Regions from separate parts of the Homo sapiens genome. Here regions 1, 2 and 4 are each reported to be linked to region 3. Evidence: microRNA targets listed by miRTarBase, many of them from high-throughput screens and not tested one by one. Region 3 holds a microRNA gene; each other region holds the end of a gene's coding sequence.
Evidence for each region. The annotated mature microRNA hsa-let-7d-5p reads AGAGGUAGUAGGUUGCAUAGUU and lies in region 3 at 2,225-2,246, opposite strand. An mRNA with a match to its seed (bases 2 to 7 or 8) in the 3' UTR can be bound and repressed. Matches are read on the target gene's strand: a 7mer-m8 pairs with bases 2 to 8, a 7mer-A1 pairs with bases 2 to 7 and ends in A, and an 8mer does both.

Region 1 (4,159 bases), not on the chromosome of region 3:
CTATTTGGAATTTCCCTTGCATCTTTCTTTTGACCACAAATATTTCATTATCTCTTTTACGCTTCTTACTAGCCAGAAGGAAAAACAGGCAAACAAAAAACCATTTCTGATTATGCCTGTAAGCAGTGAGAATTAGTAGTGGTATCTTTCCCTGCCTCAAGAAAATATGGGGGAATAGGCAACATATGATTTTGCACCTACGTTTCTCAAAGGTGCTCCATAGTACTTATTTTTAAAGCTTTCACAATGTATACATAATAAAAATGTTCAAAATGATTTGTAAACTCTCATCAGATCAAGATAATCCAGTGTAAAAAGAACTGCTGTTCAGTGTTGCTGCTGAATTCTCACAAAGACCCCTTCATAATCTTTGTTCACAAACAGGGAGCGTCTCGGCAGGCACTCCAGAGCTCTCACCAAATGAGGCACTGCCTATTAAGCAGCATGAAAGTACCTAAAGACTGCCCATAAAACAGGAACAAAGAAAACAAAGCTCAGTTTCACCTCCAGCCAAAAAGGAGTCTTCATGACCTATCAATATGTAAGATGAATACAGATCATGCTGACTTTCCTCAGAGAAAAGTCTAATAAAAAATGTCCTTATCAATATCTGCTTGAAATCTAGTTTATATGGAAAATGGAGAGCATAATACACTTCAAAATGCTACTAGTATCTACTACAGTGCTTATGTCCTATAAAATCCCTATGGACAAAAACAATTTTACCTGTGAATAAAAATTAGAAATGAAAGAGGTAGGTGACTATCATTTGAAGATAATCCCAAAACAACATGTTGAATAATATGCTTGAGTCCCCAAAGAGCTCTTTAACTGGACAATGAGTTCCAACATCGGTGCAATTTCCTTAAGAGCAGAGTTTCCCAGATATTTCATGATGTCTTCAACCTTTCAATGCCCCAACTCCTGATACAGTGCCACACTCTTCAGACATTTAATATTAAGAAATAGCTAATGAAGTAAAATGTAAAGAAGTAATACTGGAGACCAAAGGGTGAGGTGATGCTGAAGTCAGCTAGGCTCTTCAAAAATCTATACCCTAGTATAGAGGAAAGCACATTTGAGCTGGACAGGACGTTAGAGATTCATCTAATCCAACTCTCTGGTTTTACAAATGAAGAAATAGAAGCTTATTTTTTCCACTGGCTCACAAAACACTAACATCCTGAAAAGATGCTATAAATCCACAGTTAACTTACTTAATTAGTCAATGATGTAGCCAAGTGGCTATATTTTCAGCCCTTATCCCTGTGGGCTGTTTTATAAAGTGAGCCACTGGTAACAGAGAAGCTGACCAAGGCCCTAGATGCACCTGGGGGCAGACTGTCAGCAAGAGAAAAACAATTTGAAATGTCAGACATGCCCTATTAAAACTTGTTCTAGGCTCAGACGAGGGTTCATTTTCCCTTCTTTGTAGGAGACACACATCTGAGCACGTTCACAAACTCCAGCTCTGCTAGGGCAAGCATTGGGGCAACAATACTATTCTGCCCAGAACACTTACAACTAACACAGATGGACAACTGGAAACCTCCAAACCCGCAGGGGCAAGACCTACACATAGCTATCTTTAATTTCTCAATAATTGTCAGTCACTTGTTTTGCAAATCAAAAACAAAAAAAAAAATCACTGGTTTTGCTTCACAGCCTTATTTATCTAAGATTTTTAAGTCTCACATTAAAAAGTGGTTGTAGGTCAGATGTGGTGGCTCATGCCTGTAATCCCAACATTTTGGGAGGCCAAGGCAGGCAGATCGTTTGAGCTCAGGACTCTGAGACCAGCCTGGGCAACATGGTGAAACCTTGTCTTTACAAAAGAAAATACAAAAAAATAGCTGGGTGTGGTGGCACACACCTGTGTGTGCGTGTGTGTGTGTGGTTCCAGCTATTCAGGAGGCTGAGACAGGAGGATTACCTGAGCCTGGGAGGTTGAGGCTACAATGAGCCATGATCACACCACTGCACTCCAGCCTGGGTGGCAAAGCGAGACTCCAAAAAACAAAAAGTGGTTGTAAGTGATTTTATTTTTTCTTTTCTATTTTCCAGTGTTTCTGTAATGCTTTCATATTTCTTTTGGTAGTTAGAAAATAAAGGCTAATTTTTAAAAAGAATATCATAGTCTAAAAAATTAAAGGATGCATAGAGTTCCCTCTTGACTATGTGACATCTAAACTGAATGAACTGTCTGCGTGGCACAGTGGAACAGCGCAGTCTCAGGATTCTGACAGATTTTTGGATCCCAGCTCTACCACTAACCTTGGGCAGGATTTTAGTCCCTCTGAGACCTGCTTTCTTCACCTGTAAAAATGAAAACAATAATACCTACCTCACAACATCCTGTAAGGATAAAATGATGCACAGTGCCTGACACATAGGTGTCCATAAATATCAACCCCTTCTCCCTATACTCCACAAAAACCCTTGAGTAAAAGGAATCACCACAGCCTGTACCAGCCACTTGCCATCCCCCTCACTACATTCACCTTTTAAATTTGCAAGGATCCTGTCTCCTAGATTTTGCGCTATTGCTTGAAGAGTTGCTATTGTGCTTAGAAAAGTATCTACATTTTATGTTCTCTTTTACAACTGTACATGCAGATAAAACATTTCTTAAAACTATCTTCCCATAAATGATAATGCACATTTCCTAAAGCACATATCATGTATAAAAACAATTCTGAAAAATAAGACTGAATTAATTTGTACATTATCTCTTAAAGTGCACCAAAGTAAATAGTAATGACCCTTAAAATGTCGCTAACCTTCCTGGGTTAGTTTTTAAAATAAAACTAAATATATATTGATTGAGATGTTTGGCTCCAATGTGATGGTAAAAGCAGCAGTGTCTTCCAGAAAAAAAAAGTCTTGATAAACTCAAATAAGCATACCTTAGCAGCACACGAAACACCTACAATTCAATGTAACTGCAGGCTCAATAAAGCACAATCCTGATTCCCACTATGAAAACAAAATCAATCAAGGAAAAACCCCAAAACCAAAAAAAAGTCTCCTCACCCTAAATTGAGGATTTCTATTGAACCCTGGAGGTAATATTTGTAATCACTTTCCTATTATTTATTCTTGGTAACAGAACTATAATTACCATTCTTTCTTTACACTGCTCACACACATACATACACAAACCCTATAAAAAAAAATAAAGTGGAGAGGCTATGAGAAAGAGAATTCAATGTCAATAAAGAACAAGCATCACCCAAAATGTCAGCCAGTTCCAATATTCACACCACCGTCCGATGTTCCCCACACACATAGACAGCACTAGGACGTATCCGTCGCTTTGTGTGACCAGGGAGCTGCGGCAAAAACTTGAAGGACTTAGGCATCATGTCCAGGCAAGCATCATGGAATTTCTTAATCCTCCAGTAGTAGATCAGCGGATTCAATGCAGACTTGAGGTAGCAGAGCCACAGTAGCCAGGTGCTAATCTCAAAAAAGTTGTGCTGATAGTAAAAGTGCTTACTGAATGTTGCCACAAGGCTGTAAGTGGTGAATGGGGCCCAGCAGACAATGAAGACAGCAAAGAGAATCAAAATAGTGGTGAAGGCACGTGTTTTAAAGCCCATGTCAATGCTCATCTGGAAAGGTCTCTGCAGACTCATGAGACCCAGTTTGCTGGCCTGGCTGAGGCATATACCTTCAGGGTAGCTATGGATCCTCAAGGCATTGTGCCGAAGGGTGTTGAGTATGCCCATAAATGAGTACAGTATTACCAGGAAGGGTATGAAGAAAGAAATGAGAGAAATCAAAATCACATAAGCCTGGTAGCCTGGATTGGTTGTGTACCCAAACACACACTGGGGAGCTCGGGAAGGTATCTGCAGGTCGGGGTTTCCTACGGCTAAAGGAAAAGCTACACAAAAGGAAGTTGCCCAAGAAACTGCAATCAGAACCTTAGCTCTATATGGGTTTAGCTTATCCTGCCTCTGGACTATAATAAGGAACCTATCTATGCTAATGATGAGCAGGATGGCTACTCCTTCTATCACAAATAACCAGAAAAACATAGCAGATACCCTACAGAAGAATTTCCCAAAAATCCATCGGGTAGTAAGAATAGTTACCAGGGCAAAGGGCATGTTCAGCACTGCAAGCAACATGTCTGCAAAAGCTAGGCTGGCAA
Region 2 (4,159 bases), not on the chromosome of region 3:
CACTTCTCTTCCCTCAGTTATCCCAATTGTTAGTAAACTTCAAGGAGGCTGGGCATGATGACTCACACCTGCTATCTCAGAACTTTGGGAGGCGAAGATGGGCAGATTCCTTGAGCCCCGGTGTTCAAGACGAGCCTGGGCAATATGGCAAAACCTCATCTCTAACAAAACACAAAAATTAGCTGGGCCTGGTGGCACGTGCCTGTAGTCCCAGCTACTTAGACTGAAGTGGGAGGATTGCTTGAGCCTGGGAGGCAGAGGTTGCTCTGAGCCAAGATTGTGCCACTGCACTCCAGCATGGGTAACAGAGTGAGACCCTATCTCCAAAAACAAAACAAAACAAAACAAAACAAAACAAATCAAAACCAAACAAAAAACTTCAAGGAAGGCTCGGCACGGTGGCTCATGCCTGTAATCCCACCACTTTGGGAGGCTGAGGTGGGTGGATCACCTGAGGTCGGGAGTTTGAGACCAGCCTGACCAACATGGAGAAACCTCATCTCTACTAGAAATATAAAATTAGCCAGGCGTGGTGGCTCATGCCTGTAATCCTAGCTACTTGGGAGGCTGAGGTAGGAGAATCGCCTCAACCCGGGAGGCGGAGGTTGCAGTGAGCTGAGATTGCACCATTGCACTCCGGCCTGGGCAACAAGAGCAAAATTCTGTCTCAAAAACAAAATAAAACAAAAAAAACTTCAAGGAGATGTGGATTCAGGGCTTGCTTTCCTTCCTTCCTTCTTTTTTTTTTTTTTTTTTGATGGAGTCTCGCTCTGTTGCCCAGGCTGGAGTGCAGTGGTGCAATCTTGGCTCACTGCAATCTCCGCCTCCTGGGTTCAAGCGACTCTCCTGCCTCAGCGTCCTGAGTAGTTGGGATTACAGATGCGTGCCACCACGCCAGGCTAATTTTTGTATTTTTAGTAGAGACAGGGTTTCATCATGTTGGTCAGGCTGGTCTCAAACTCCTGACCGCCTTGGCTTCCCAAAGTGCTGAGATTATAGGCGTGAACCACCATGCCTGGCCTAGGTTTTGTTTTGAACTGATATTCTGTTTCTTCAGCAAGTCCACATAAGAATGTGGATATGAAAGGATGAAAATCTACTGAAAGATTACATAAAGAACAGATAACAGGGACCCACAGAATAAATCAGAAGAAATCTATGAAATAGCCACAACTTCTTGAACATTAAAGTGAAGGGAAAAAAAGCCACATTCATCAGATTAAACAGAAGCTATTAATTTTTTTCTTCCATTTATAGTGTGGATAGGAATTAAAGCAAAACAGTGAGACTGTATGGTTTTCAATACAAGTTCAAAGAAAGCAACAAAATCTTCTGTTTTAGGAAATCATATTAATATCTATTACAAATGCAGAAAGCAGGGGGGCTGAGTCAATGCCCCAGCACCAACCATACTGGTTATAGTGTGGAAGAGGGGCGGGTGAGGTGGAAGCTGCCAGAGAGAGCAGGAGGATCAGCACTGGAGTGAAGAGGAAGCACGCAGCAGGAGAGGGCAAAGAGCACTGAGAAGAAGAGGGGAGCAGTGGGCCATGATTGTGCCCTTCTTGCTTCTCCAGAGACCCTTTCCTATGCAGCACCCCACACCCAGCCAGACCTTATTGTGATTCTGGCTAGAAGTGTGGGGACTGACAGCTCATAAATGCTCCCACAGAGTTGATACAACTCTGCTTTAAGGAGGAGAATACATTTATTGGTCGAAGTGATTTAGAGAATATCATTTGGTAAATAAAACTACAATAGCCTATAAAATGTAACCTGCTAGTTTTCTGCCACGTTAGCATTAATATTAAGGCTTTTTTTTTTTTTTTGAGACGGAGTCTCGCTCTGTCACCCAGGCTGGAGTGCAGTGGCGCGATCTCGGCTCACTGCAATCTCCACCTCCCAGGTTCAAGCAATTCTCCCGCCTCAGCCTCCCCAGTGGCTGGGACTACAAGGCACAAGCCACCATGCCCGGCTAATTTTTTTTACTTTTTAGTAGAGACAGGGTTTTGCCATGTTGGCCAGGCTGGTCTTGAACTCCTGAACTCAGGTGATCCACCCGCCTCAGCCTCCCAAAGTGTTGGGATTACAGGCGTGAGCCACTGAATCTGGCTAAGGCTTTTTTTTTTTTTTTTTTTGCAAGGAAGGAATAAGGGGATTTATTGAAAATGAAAGTACACTCCACAGTGTGGGAGTGGGCCTGAGCACAGGGGCTCAAAACGCCTTTCTTGTTTTTGTATATAGAAAATATACATGCTTTCTCATCTAACCGATTTTTTTTTTTTTTTTTTTTTTAAGACAGAGTCCCACTTTGTTGCCCAGGCTGGAGTGCAGTAGGCATGATCTTGGCTCACTGCAACCTCCACCTCCTGGGTTCAAGCGATTCTCATGCCTCAACCAGGCGCCACCACACCTGGCTAATTTTTGTATTTTTAGTAGAGATGGGGTTTCACCATGTTGGCCAGGCTGGTCTTGAACTCCTGACCTCAGGTGATCCACCCACCTCGGCCTCCCAAAGTGCTGGGATTACAGGCGTGAGCCACCGCGCCTGGCCTCATCTAACCAATTTGGATTCTGGTTGGAGTTCAGGAAAAACTAAGTTCCCATTACTTCCAGATTATTTTAAAATAAAAAATCATGATGACTTGTGAGGAAAAGGAAGAACATGTCAGATCCTGAGCTTCCTCTCAGGCTTGAGTGCCTCAAGAGGACTGTATTGCTGTGTTACGAGAGGTACAGTGCAATGCTTTCATCTGATATGCCAGTGTGGTAAGAAGGCTTTCCCTGGAGGTAGAGACTCTTTTATCAGAAGGTTGGGGGTCTCCAGAAGGTTTTCCCCACCAGGAATTGGATTTGATGGCTGGAATTTAGAGCCTACACATTTGGGTCTCACAATCAGGGCAGGGCAGGTAAGGCTAATGGTGCAAACTGTGTCTCTGCACAGGCAGTCATCTAGGGGAAGGGGTGTGGTGCAGCCAGTAAAACCTGGAACCTGCAAGTGGTTCAGAACTTTGGTGGCCAGTAAGGGAAAAACTCCTCAAGCATGCTACAATATTGAAAGGTTCAAAAGCACTGACAAAGTGTTGTTTTGCCCCCGGTGCAGCACATAAGACTCTGTTCCAGTGAAATGCTACATTCAAAGTGCTGTCCACCTCAGAAGATCCCAGAGGATGCAATTCTGGCTGTGCTGGGAAGTGCTAAAGTTCCCTCCATATGTCACTTTGGAGAAGGAAGCAGCAAAGCAGCCATGTTGATTCCTCTCTCAACCTTTGGCATCATGGACGATGGTAGCTAAAAGAGATTAAAAAAGAGACAAGTTACCACATGATGTACATTGCTTTGCTATTAATGTATCAGTAGTAATGAAATGTTATACCTAATTAACACTGCCTTTCCTCTGCTCTAATTCGACCTGACCTTTCTGTTGCATCTGATACTCCTCATCTGCTTCCTTCTTAAAACTCTTCTCGGCTGGGCGCAATGGTTCACACCTGTAATCCCAGCACTTTGGGAGGCCGAGGCGGGCGGATCAAGAGGTCAGGAGATTGAGACCATCCTGGCTAACACGGTGAAACCCTGTCTCTACTAAAAATACAAAAAATTAGCTGGGCGTGGTGGCGCGCACCTGTAGTCCCAGCTACTCGCGAGGCTGAGGCAGGAGAATGGCGTGAACCTGGGAGGTGGAGTTTGCAGTGAGCCGAGATCGCGCCACTGCACTCCAGCCTGGGTGACACAGCGAGACTCCGTCTCAAAAAAAAAAAAAAAAAAAAAAAAGAACTCTTCTCTTGGCTTCTGTAACACTATCTTTTCCATAATTTTCTCTCTTCTTCAATTGATCTTTCTCAGTATGCTGTCCTGGTTCATTTTCCTCTGTCTACCCTTTAAATAAAAAACAACTTTCCTTGGCCAGTCACGGTGGCTCATGCCTGTAATCAATCCCAACACTTTGGGAGGCCAAGGTGAGAAGATCATTTGAGACCAGGAGTTTGAGAGCAGCCTGGGCAACATACGGAGACCCTGTCTCTACAAATGATCAAAAAGTTAGCCAGGTGTGGTGGCCTGTGCCTGTAGTCACAGCTACTGAGGAGGCTGAGGTGGGAGGATGGCTTGAACATGAGAGGTTGAGGCTGCAGTGAGCCACGATCATGCCACTGCACTCCAG
Region 3 (4,370 bases):
TTTTTAAGACAGTCTTGCTCTGTCGTCCAAGCTGGAGTGCAATAGCGTAATCTCTGGTCACTGCAACCTCCACCTCCCTGGTTCAAGCGGTTCTCCTTACATCAGCCTCACAAGTAGCCCACCACCATGCCAGCTACTTTTTTTTAGTAAGATGGGGTTTCATCATGTTGGCCAGGCTGGTCTCGAACTCTTGACCTCAGGGGATCTGCCTGCCTTGGCCTCCCAAAGTGCTGTGATTACAGGCGTGAACCACTAGGCCAGGCAGAAATACTCATTTTGAAATTACCCCAATCCTATCACACCTCATTTCCTTGCTCTTTTCCTACGCATCTTCGCCTAAATCAGTGCACATGAAATTGATGCAATTTTGCCACAACTTAAATCTTCAACTTTAAAGAACTGTACCATGTAAGGTACCTTAGAAAACATACCCAACCATCTCAATTCATAAAGGAAATTTAAAGCCCCAAGTATGAGAACATCCCTAGATCACGATTCTTCCTTCCACTGGAGCAAGGGGCTAGGCAGCAGAGGGGCAGGATGGGAAACTCCACTGAATTTCCTTTCAACTTTCTCACCCCTGGAGACTTTTAAATGTATTACTGCTCATGATCAGGCAAGGGTGGTTCACACCTGTAATCCCAGCACTCTGGAAGGCCACGGCCGGTGGATCACTTGAGGCCAGGAGTTCAAGACCAGCCTGGCCAACATAGTGAAACCCTGTCTCTAATAAAAATACAAAAAATTACCTAAATCCTGTCTACTCTACCCAGGAGGTGGAGGTTGCAGCAGTGAGCTGAGATCACACCACTGCACTCTAGCCTGGGAAACAGTGAGATTTTGTCTCAAAAAATAAAATAAAATAAAAAAAAATACTACTGTTCATAGTAGTTGGAAAAAGATGGAATGCTAATGCACAAATTCGTCTCATTCCTAGAATGATAAATGCTCAAACTAGACTAGTGAAATGAGACATAAGAGTTTTTACAAGGTAGTGTCTGCCTGAGCAAACTCAAATAATTACTCAAGTAAAGAAAGGAGGCTGTCCTGGCCAGCACTTTGGGAGGTAAAAGCCAGAGGATAATCAGGAGTTCAAGACCAGTCTGGGCAATATGGTGAAACCGTCTCTACAAAAATAAAATTAGCCAGGCATGGTTGTATGCACCTGTAGTCCCAGTTACTAGGAAGCTTGAGTCCGGGAGGTCAAGGCTGCAGTGAGCTGTGATCATTTCACTACACTCCAGCATGGGTGACGGAATGAGACCATCTCAAAAACAAAACAAAAAGGAGGGTGATCCTGAGCAGTTAATTGTCTGTACAAAGTCACACAAGTGTTTACAAAAATGGAAGAGCTGGAAATTGCTCGTGTTAGCTTTATTAAAACATCTGTAAATGACCATCCAATCACCAAATTATTGCTAATGAAAAATGAAACTAAGAACAAATCATAATAATTACAAATGAAAAATGCATCTACTACTGCAAGGATGGGGATAAGGGTTAAGGATGACTTAAAAAGCACTAGTTTTGAAGTATGCAGTGTTTTTATTGAAAAGATGTATAACTTTTAACAAAATATGTAACACTATTACCCAGTCAAGACAACCACTTTCATTTTATTGACCTTCCAGTTCTTGTACATATTAAACAGACAAATCACTGTTACATACCATAATGAGCAGCAGCTCAATTACCCATTCCCAAACCATGCAATTCCACCCCAGCCGCCCCAAATTTTAAATCCAGAAGACAAACCTAGAAAAGCAGCAAGATAAATATTTACAAACATTGTAGAAAAACAGCAGTATTTCAAGTTTTGTTAAATTCTTTCCTTCAGACATAATGTAGACATAGAGGAGGAACAGCTGAGAGTCTCTGCATCACAGAAAGAGAAACCTGAGCAAAAACAAAACCATGCTTTCTAAACTTTCCAGTGACACCAAAAGGGAGACACTAGCAACTAAGTGTACTTCAGAAGTCTCAAATTCTCATTAGTTGACTTTCAGTTATCAATGTCAGCACCATGCTGCAGTTTATAATCACTAACGCAAACACTGCTCTCTTTGATATTCTTGCAATGTTTTCATTTGAAAAAACCTACAGAAAGAACTCTGCTTACACCAAAGCAAAGTAGCAAGGAAACAGGTTATCGGTGAATAATAAGGCCCTAAGAAAGGCAGCAGGTCGTATAGTTACCTCCTTGTGGGCAAAATCCCTGCCCTAAAACTATGCAACCTACTACCTCTTCCTAGGAACCCATTTTTTTTTTCTTGCTGGTCTTCTACTTGGCAGATGCACTTCAAATTAACCTGTTAAATTAGGTCATGTTCTTTGAGTTTTGTTTCTAATTCAAACTAATCAGAATTCTTTAACTAATGCTTTTGAAAAGTTATCTGGCCATATGACCTTGGTAAAAAGCCACAAATACATTTGCTTAAAATCCAACCTCAAGTCACAAACGAACAAGAAAGTAATGACATCAGAGGATGTAAGCCAGTAGTCTAATACTCAGCCCACCACGTATTACTGGAGTCGCTGACTTTTAACATTTAATTATCAATTTTTTTTTTGGACAGTCTCGCTCTGTCACCCAGGCTGGAGTACAGTGGTGTGATCTCGGCTCACTGCAACCTCTGCCTCCTGGGTTTAAGTGATTCTCCTGCCTCAGCCCCCAGAGTAGCTGGGATTACAGGCGCCCACCACCACGCCCAGCTACTTTTTTGTATTTTTAGTAGAAACAGGTTTTCACCATTTAGGCAGGCTGGTCTCAAACTCCTGACTCAGGTGATCCGCCCACCTTGGCCTCCCCAAAGTGCTGGGATTACCGGCATGAGCCACCACACCCGGCCTAATTTTTGTATCTTTATTAGAGACTGTGTTTCACCAGGCTGGTCAGGATGGTCTTTAACTCCTGACCTCAGGTGCTCCACCCGCCTCAGCCTCCCGAAGTGCTGGGATTAGAGGTGTGAGCCATGGTGCCCAACCCAGTTACCAACATTTAAATATCAAATTTCATAAAATCTCCAGTCTCTCCTGTTAACTGGAAAAGTAGGTGACAATGTATATAAACCCTGCTTGCTACCTATCAACCAGAGCAAATTAATTTACTATATTTGCCAGTTACAACTAGCCCCTCCTGGGCCTCTGATGGTATTTCAGTTTTTGACCCCTGAATTAAAGCAAACAGAAACAAATTCTGATCATGAATTTTATCATCATTAAAAACAAGCTTTCAGAGATAGTCATTCTCTCCATAAAGGCATTTTTAAAGTTTTATTTCGATTTACTTACTCTGCTTAGCTAATAACAATGTCCTTATGTAATTAATAAAATATATAAATTAATTTTTCTCCAGGGCTTAATTATTAGATAAGGATACGTTTCCAACTGAAGGTGGCAACGTTATGCTGGAAGAACATGTCAGGAAGACCACAAAATTTCATGACTGTACTTGCTACACTTTCAGCAGAAGAGTTATACATATTTTCAATTCAACAAAGATTAAGCCAAAAAGAATTCTTAGAACATTCCCACTCTTCTTTGGCACATCAAAAGGCAACAAATGTCATTTTCTCCCATGTTTTTATGTGCAGTTTAGAACAAAGACCAATTATCTATGCAGCTGTCCACAGTGGATAAAACAAAAAGCATACATTTGGTCCAGAGTTAAGTCACCTGGGTTGGGCCCATCCAAGGAAGTTTGATGTTTCTACTCTCATGAAAAGTACCAATGGCACTGCACAGTGATTATCTTAGATATTAAGGATAAACACAAATTTCTCCTTAAATTTCCATTTATTGGAAATGATTGGAGGGAGGGAACTTCTCCCTCACCTCCACACTGCCTCTTTTCCAACTCTTCTTCCAACACAAAATAGTTTAAACAGCAAGCACTTAGAGAGCTTTTAGCCTTGCTTGTTGATTACAAGGCCCAAGTTAGTGTATGGTTTGCCCATCGGAGGAAAGCTAAAACATGGGCCTTCATGGGTATTAAAATTGAAGAAACCTTTTCCAGCATTTTTTCTATTTTCTTTAAAGTAACAACCTATGGACTTCCCCATCTGACATTTTCGAGTGATCCCACTGTGTGAATGAAGGACTACTTCAGGGTTTGAGGGCAAAGCTGAAATCTTAGCAACTTACCAGTGAGCAAAGGTAGAACCCAGAGCCCATCTCTCCTTTTCCAGGCTGCTGAGTAAAGTCTGGCTCAATCAACCTATCAATGAAGCAGTGCTTACAACATTCTCCAAGACCACCCAAAACCCAAACTGGAAATGAATCATGACTAATCTGACTCATTTTGGCTCACACAGTGCCCTTCCAATTTGTATTTACCTTTACCACCCAGGACCTGACCTTGGACATGTGTA
Region 4 (4,159 bases), not on the chromosome of region 3:
CCCCAGGGCTAGATTGTTAGCTGAGTCAGGTCCAAGGGTGGTTGCAAGGAAACAAAGGAACGGGTCGCACTCGCTCTCAGGAAGGCCATTCAGACTCCATTCTCATCTGAAGACAAGGGTGGCCACACCAGTCTGGAGTGAAATCAGTTTCTAGGAGGCAGGGAAAGGAGGAGCTGATCAGTACACAGGAAGAAGGCAAAGGGCAACAGAAGGAGTCAGCCACAAACCTGGAAGGTGGGGAGGAAAGACCAGAAATCACTATGAAATAGACAAACCCAGGACAGAACTTGGAGTTAAATATCCCACTGTACAAAGAACAAAAAGCCCTACTGTGAGAGGGGAAAAAAATAGAAAAGCCTCTAGGCCTTTTATAAGCCTTCTCACAGGCTGTCCACACCCATGGAAGGACGTGGTGGGAAGGGACAATCCCTAGTGAAAACACCTGCTCTGCAGGTCCCACAGCAACACCGCTCCTGAAGACAGGCTGCAGGAGCTGCTTTCTGGTTCTCGATCTTCATGAACTCCCTGCTGCCTTTCTTTTAGAAAACAGAAGGACACAATGAAAAGCCTATGGAAAAAGTTCAGGGGTCATATTATGGCTGCTCCACCTTATGAGCTATGTAGTCTTGGGCAAGTTCCTTAACTTCATTGCTCTTTCCCCGTCTGTAAAATGAGGATACTATGATCTTAGAGCAAGCAGCTGGCACATTACTAGGAAATATAAACACACTGTCTACCCTCCTGTTCAGAGACCTCTCTCCCTTGGGTGACATGGAGGAAGAGGAGAGTCCAGACCTAGGCAACAATCAGTCTTGACTTTGTTAGGGAACATGGAATACACTACAAAAAAAGCAGCTTAACAACTGCTCAGCAATTTAGCAGGTTAAAGATAGGGTTAGTCAACCAAAAACAACATATTAATTAGTCTGCTCCTCTTTGAGGAGTTACGTCCTGAAAAATGATTCATATACCTTCTGAAGTCCTGGAATTAGGAATAGAAAGGGGCACCACAAATTTGCATATCATCTTTCATCCAAGGATATGGAAAAATAACAACTCTTATATCTTTTTAAAATTTCAACATCTATTTCAATCAGATTGTTCAGAGCCAAACCAAAATTTAAAGTTCACATACAAAAAAGTCAAGGGCTAGACTCCAAGTGCCAGAAAAAAGAGGGGAAAAAAAAAATCAACCAACCACCTGTCTATGAGAGGTTGTTCATCTCACTGTTGCTTATCTTTCAAGATGAAGTTGAATGCTCAATGCTGTAATAAGCTGACTTTTAGATCCCCTGGTCACATGGAAGGAGGAGGAATAAGAAGAGACACACTGAAACAAATATAAAAGGAAGGCACAGCTCTGGGTACTGGCATGGTATTATGTGCCAAGTCTTAAAAATGTTTATACCTGTTATTTCAGTACTCCAACTTATATGAGTTGGTAATAAAGAGAAAATTTAAATGAGAAAAATATTAAATAAGGTTAGTCACACTGTTAGCTACAGCAAAATAACATAAACCTCCAACATTGTGAAAATGTTAAATATTTGAGAGTATGGCCACAATCTCATATTGAAAATTAGATTTACAAAGAGATTTTAATGCTGTGGAATGATGCTTATAATTTTCTAACTGGGTACAAAACTGGATAATATAGTCTGAACTATGTAAAACTATGTCTGAGTATGTGAACGTGCCACAAGGTTATCAGCAATAATATTAAAAGTTCATTAGTTTTATGTTTTCTGTATTTTATAGGTTTTTTTTTAACAATGCATGCTATATTTTATTCAGAAAAATATTTTAAAAGTCACTGGCTGGGCGCAGTGGCTCATGCCTGTAATCCCAGCACTTTGGGAGGCCAAGGCAAGTGGATCGCTTGAGTCCAGGAGTTCAAGACCAGCCTGGGTGACATGGCAAAACTCCATCTCTACAAAAAATATAAAAGTTATCTTGGCGTGTTGGTGTACACCTATAGTCCCAGCTACTCAGAAGGCTGAGGCGGAAGGATCACTTGAGCCTGGGAGGCAGAGGTTGCAGTGAGCTAAGATCGCACCACTGCGCTCCAGCCTGGGCGACAGAGCAACACACAATCTCAACAACAAAAAAAAATTGTTTGTTTTAAAGTCACAAAAGTCTTAATAGTCCCAATAACCAGATTGATATGCTCACTACTATTAAACGTGATTCAGGCCGGGTGCAGTGGCTCACGCCTGTAATCCTAGCACTTTGGGAGGCCGAGGCGGGTGGATCACCTGAGGTCAGGAGACCAGCATGGCCAACATGGTGAAACCTCGTCTCTACTAAAAATACAAAAATTAGCCGGGCGTGGTGGCAGGCACCTATAATCCCAGCTACTCGGGAGGCTGAGGCAGGAGAATCGCTTGAACCCAGGAGGCGGAGGCTGCAGTGAGCTGAGATCGCGCCACTGCACTCCAGCCTGGGGGACAAGAATGAGAAACAAACAAAAAACAACAACAACAAAAACGTTTTTTGTTTGTTTTGATTCAGGCCGGGCGCAGTGGCTCACGCCTGTAATCCCAGCTTAGGCGGGCAAATCACCTGAGGTCAGGAGTTCAAGGCATTCTGGCCAACATGGCAAAACCCCATCTCTACTAATAATACAAAAATTAGCTAGGCGCTGTGGCATGTGCCTGTAATCCCAGCTACTCAGGAGGCTGAGGCAGGAGAATTGCTTGAATCCAGGAGGCGGAGGTTGCAGTGAGCCGAGATCATGCCACTGCACCCCAGGCTGGGAGATAGAGCAAGACTCCGTCTCAAAAAAAAAAAAAAACCAGTGATTCAGTGGTAAGTCTATCACTTTTAACAAATTTTCAAGAAAATGAATAGTCTAAATTTTAGCATCGCTATCCTCTAAGGTTCTCCAGGCTTTATAGTTAATGATAAGTGGCTACCTTCTTTTACAAAGAGAAGCTAGGTCCACTATTAGCTGTGTGAACTTGGCCCTGTTATTCAACATTCTCTTTGACTGAGTTTCTTTGTCTGTAAAATGTGCATAACACTGTATCTGTCTCAAAGGATGTTGTAAGGATTCAATGATATGTGTATAAGGTGTTTAGTACATTGTCTGGTACAACACAACACTCAAAAGTGTGTTAACTATCATCATTTAAGACCCAACCACTCAGCAACAGAGAAAACTCTGCAGATCCAAATCCCAATTCAGAGTTTCATTTACATTGAAAAGGATACAGAAAGTAAAGCCCAACATCCATGAAAATCAGTAAGAATTCAGAAGACAGACTCCAGATCCAAGACAGAGATGTACCCAACTTAGAAGCATGCTTCCTGAGTAAGGGGAGTCACCTGGGGTGCTCAGGTATGCTGGGAGAAGTGGTAATACGACAAGACAGAGATTGGGGACAGAATCTACAGGATAAGAACAAACGGAGAGCTCATCCACGTACTGCAGCCAGAAACCAATAGAACTATAAGGAGATAAAGAATCCACAGGCTACTGAAAGTTTTAGAAAGCTCAGTGTGTCCAAGGACAATCATAGGGGGAAAGAAGAGGAATTTGAAATCCCAAGCTAATTTCCTCTTGAGGAGCCAAATCCAGAGTCCCCAAGAACCACTCGTTTACTTACATTTCAGTGCAGCAGCCTCTTAGGCCACTCTTAATTCAGCCCAACGGAAAGTCCAATAATCAATGCTAAAATGCCCAGCAACACAACTACTAGCACAATGATAATTATCAATTTCTGGAGAGAGGAATAAGACAAAAACAAATCATTATTACAAACAACCAAAAAAATAACAACTCATCCAAAACCTAACCCCTGTCACCTCTACATAGAAAATATCTTACCAGTCTGAGTAAGAGGCCTACATCTCTACATACAGACATCCTTCTAGGATACTTCATTTATTTTTAAGACAGGGTTTTTCTCTATCACTCAGGCTAGAGTGCAGTGGCATGATCATGGCTCACTGCAGCCTCGACCTCCTGGGCTCAAGTGATCCTCCTGCCTCAGCCTCCTGAGTACATAGGACTACAGGCATGCACCACCATGCTCAGCTCATTTTCTTTATTTTTGTAGAGACAGGATCTTCCCATGTTCCCCAGTCTGGTCTCAAATTCCTGGGCTCAAGCAATCCTCTCACCTCGGCCTCCCAAAGTTCTGGGATTATAGGTGTG

Region 1: miRTarBase lists GPR63 as a target of hsa-let-7d-5p. Seed matches in the 3' UTR shown: 7mer-m8 at 752-758.
Region 2: miRTarBase lists PHACTR4 as a target of hsa-let-7d-5p. Seed matches in the 3' UTR shown: 7mer-m8 at 2,785-2,791 and 8mer at 569-576.
Region 4: the mRNA of STX3 is a reported target of hsa-let-7d-5p. The part of its 3' UTR that is shown has no 7-base or 8-base seed match.

What each region holds. Positions count from the first base shown.
Region 1 is chr6:96,795,215-96,799,373 of GRCh38, forward strand. GPR63 (G protein-coupled receptor 63) reads right to left here. Exons shown (of 2, transcript NM_030784.4): 2 at 1-4,159. The coding sequence ends at 3,258. Among named protein-coding and RNA genes, the nearest start is that of GPR63, 40 kb to the right of the region's middle.
Region 2 is chr1:28,495,663-28,499,821 of GRCh38, reverse strand. It overlaps PHACTR4 (phosphatase and actin regulator 4), which reads right to left. Exons shown (of 14, transcript NM_001048183.3): 14 at 1-3,288. The coding sequence ends at 3,273. Among named protein-coding and RNA genes, the nearest start is that of SNHG3, 8.2 kb to the left of the region's middle.
Region 3 is chr9:94,176,717-94,181,086 of GRCh38, reverse strand. It overlaps MIRLET7D (microRNA let-7d), which reads right to left and starts at 2,253; the gene lies at 2,167-2,253. It overlaps MIRLET7A1HG (miRlet-7a-1/let-7f-1/let-7d cluster host gene), which reads right to left. Exons shown (of 5, transcript NR_170278.1): 3 at 1,166-1,267. LINC02603 (long intergenic non-protein coding RNA 2603) reads left to right here. Exons shown (of 3, transcript NR_160773.1): 3 at 3,356-4,370. RefSeq lists an enhancer at 1,793-1,842.
Region 4 is chr11:59,796,846-59,801,004 of GRCh38, reverse strand. STX3 (syntaxin 3) reads right to left here. Exons shown (of 11, transcript NM_004177.5): 10 at 3,609-3,722; 11 at 1-150. The coding sequence ends at 3,639. Among named protein-coding and RNA genes, the nearest start is that of MRPL16, 12 kb to the left of the region's middle.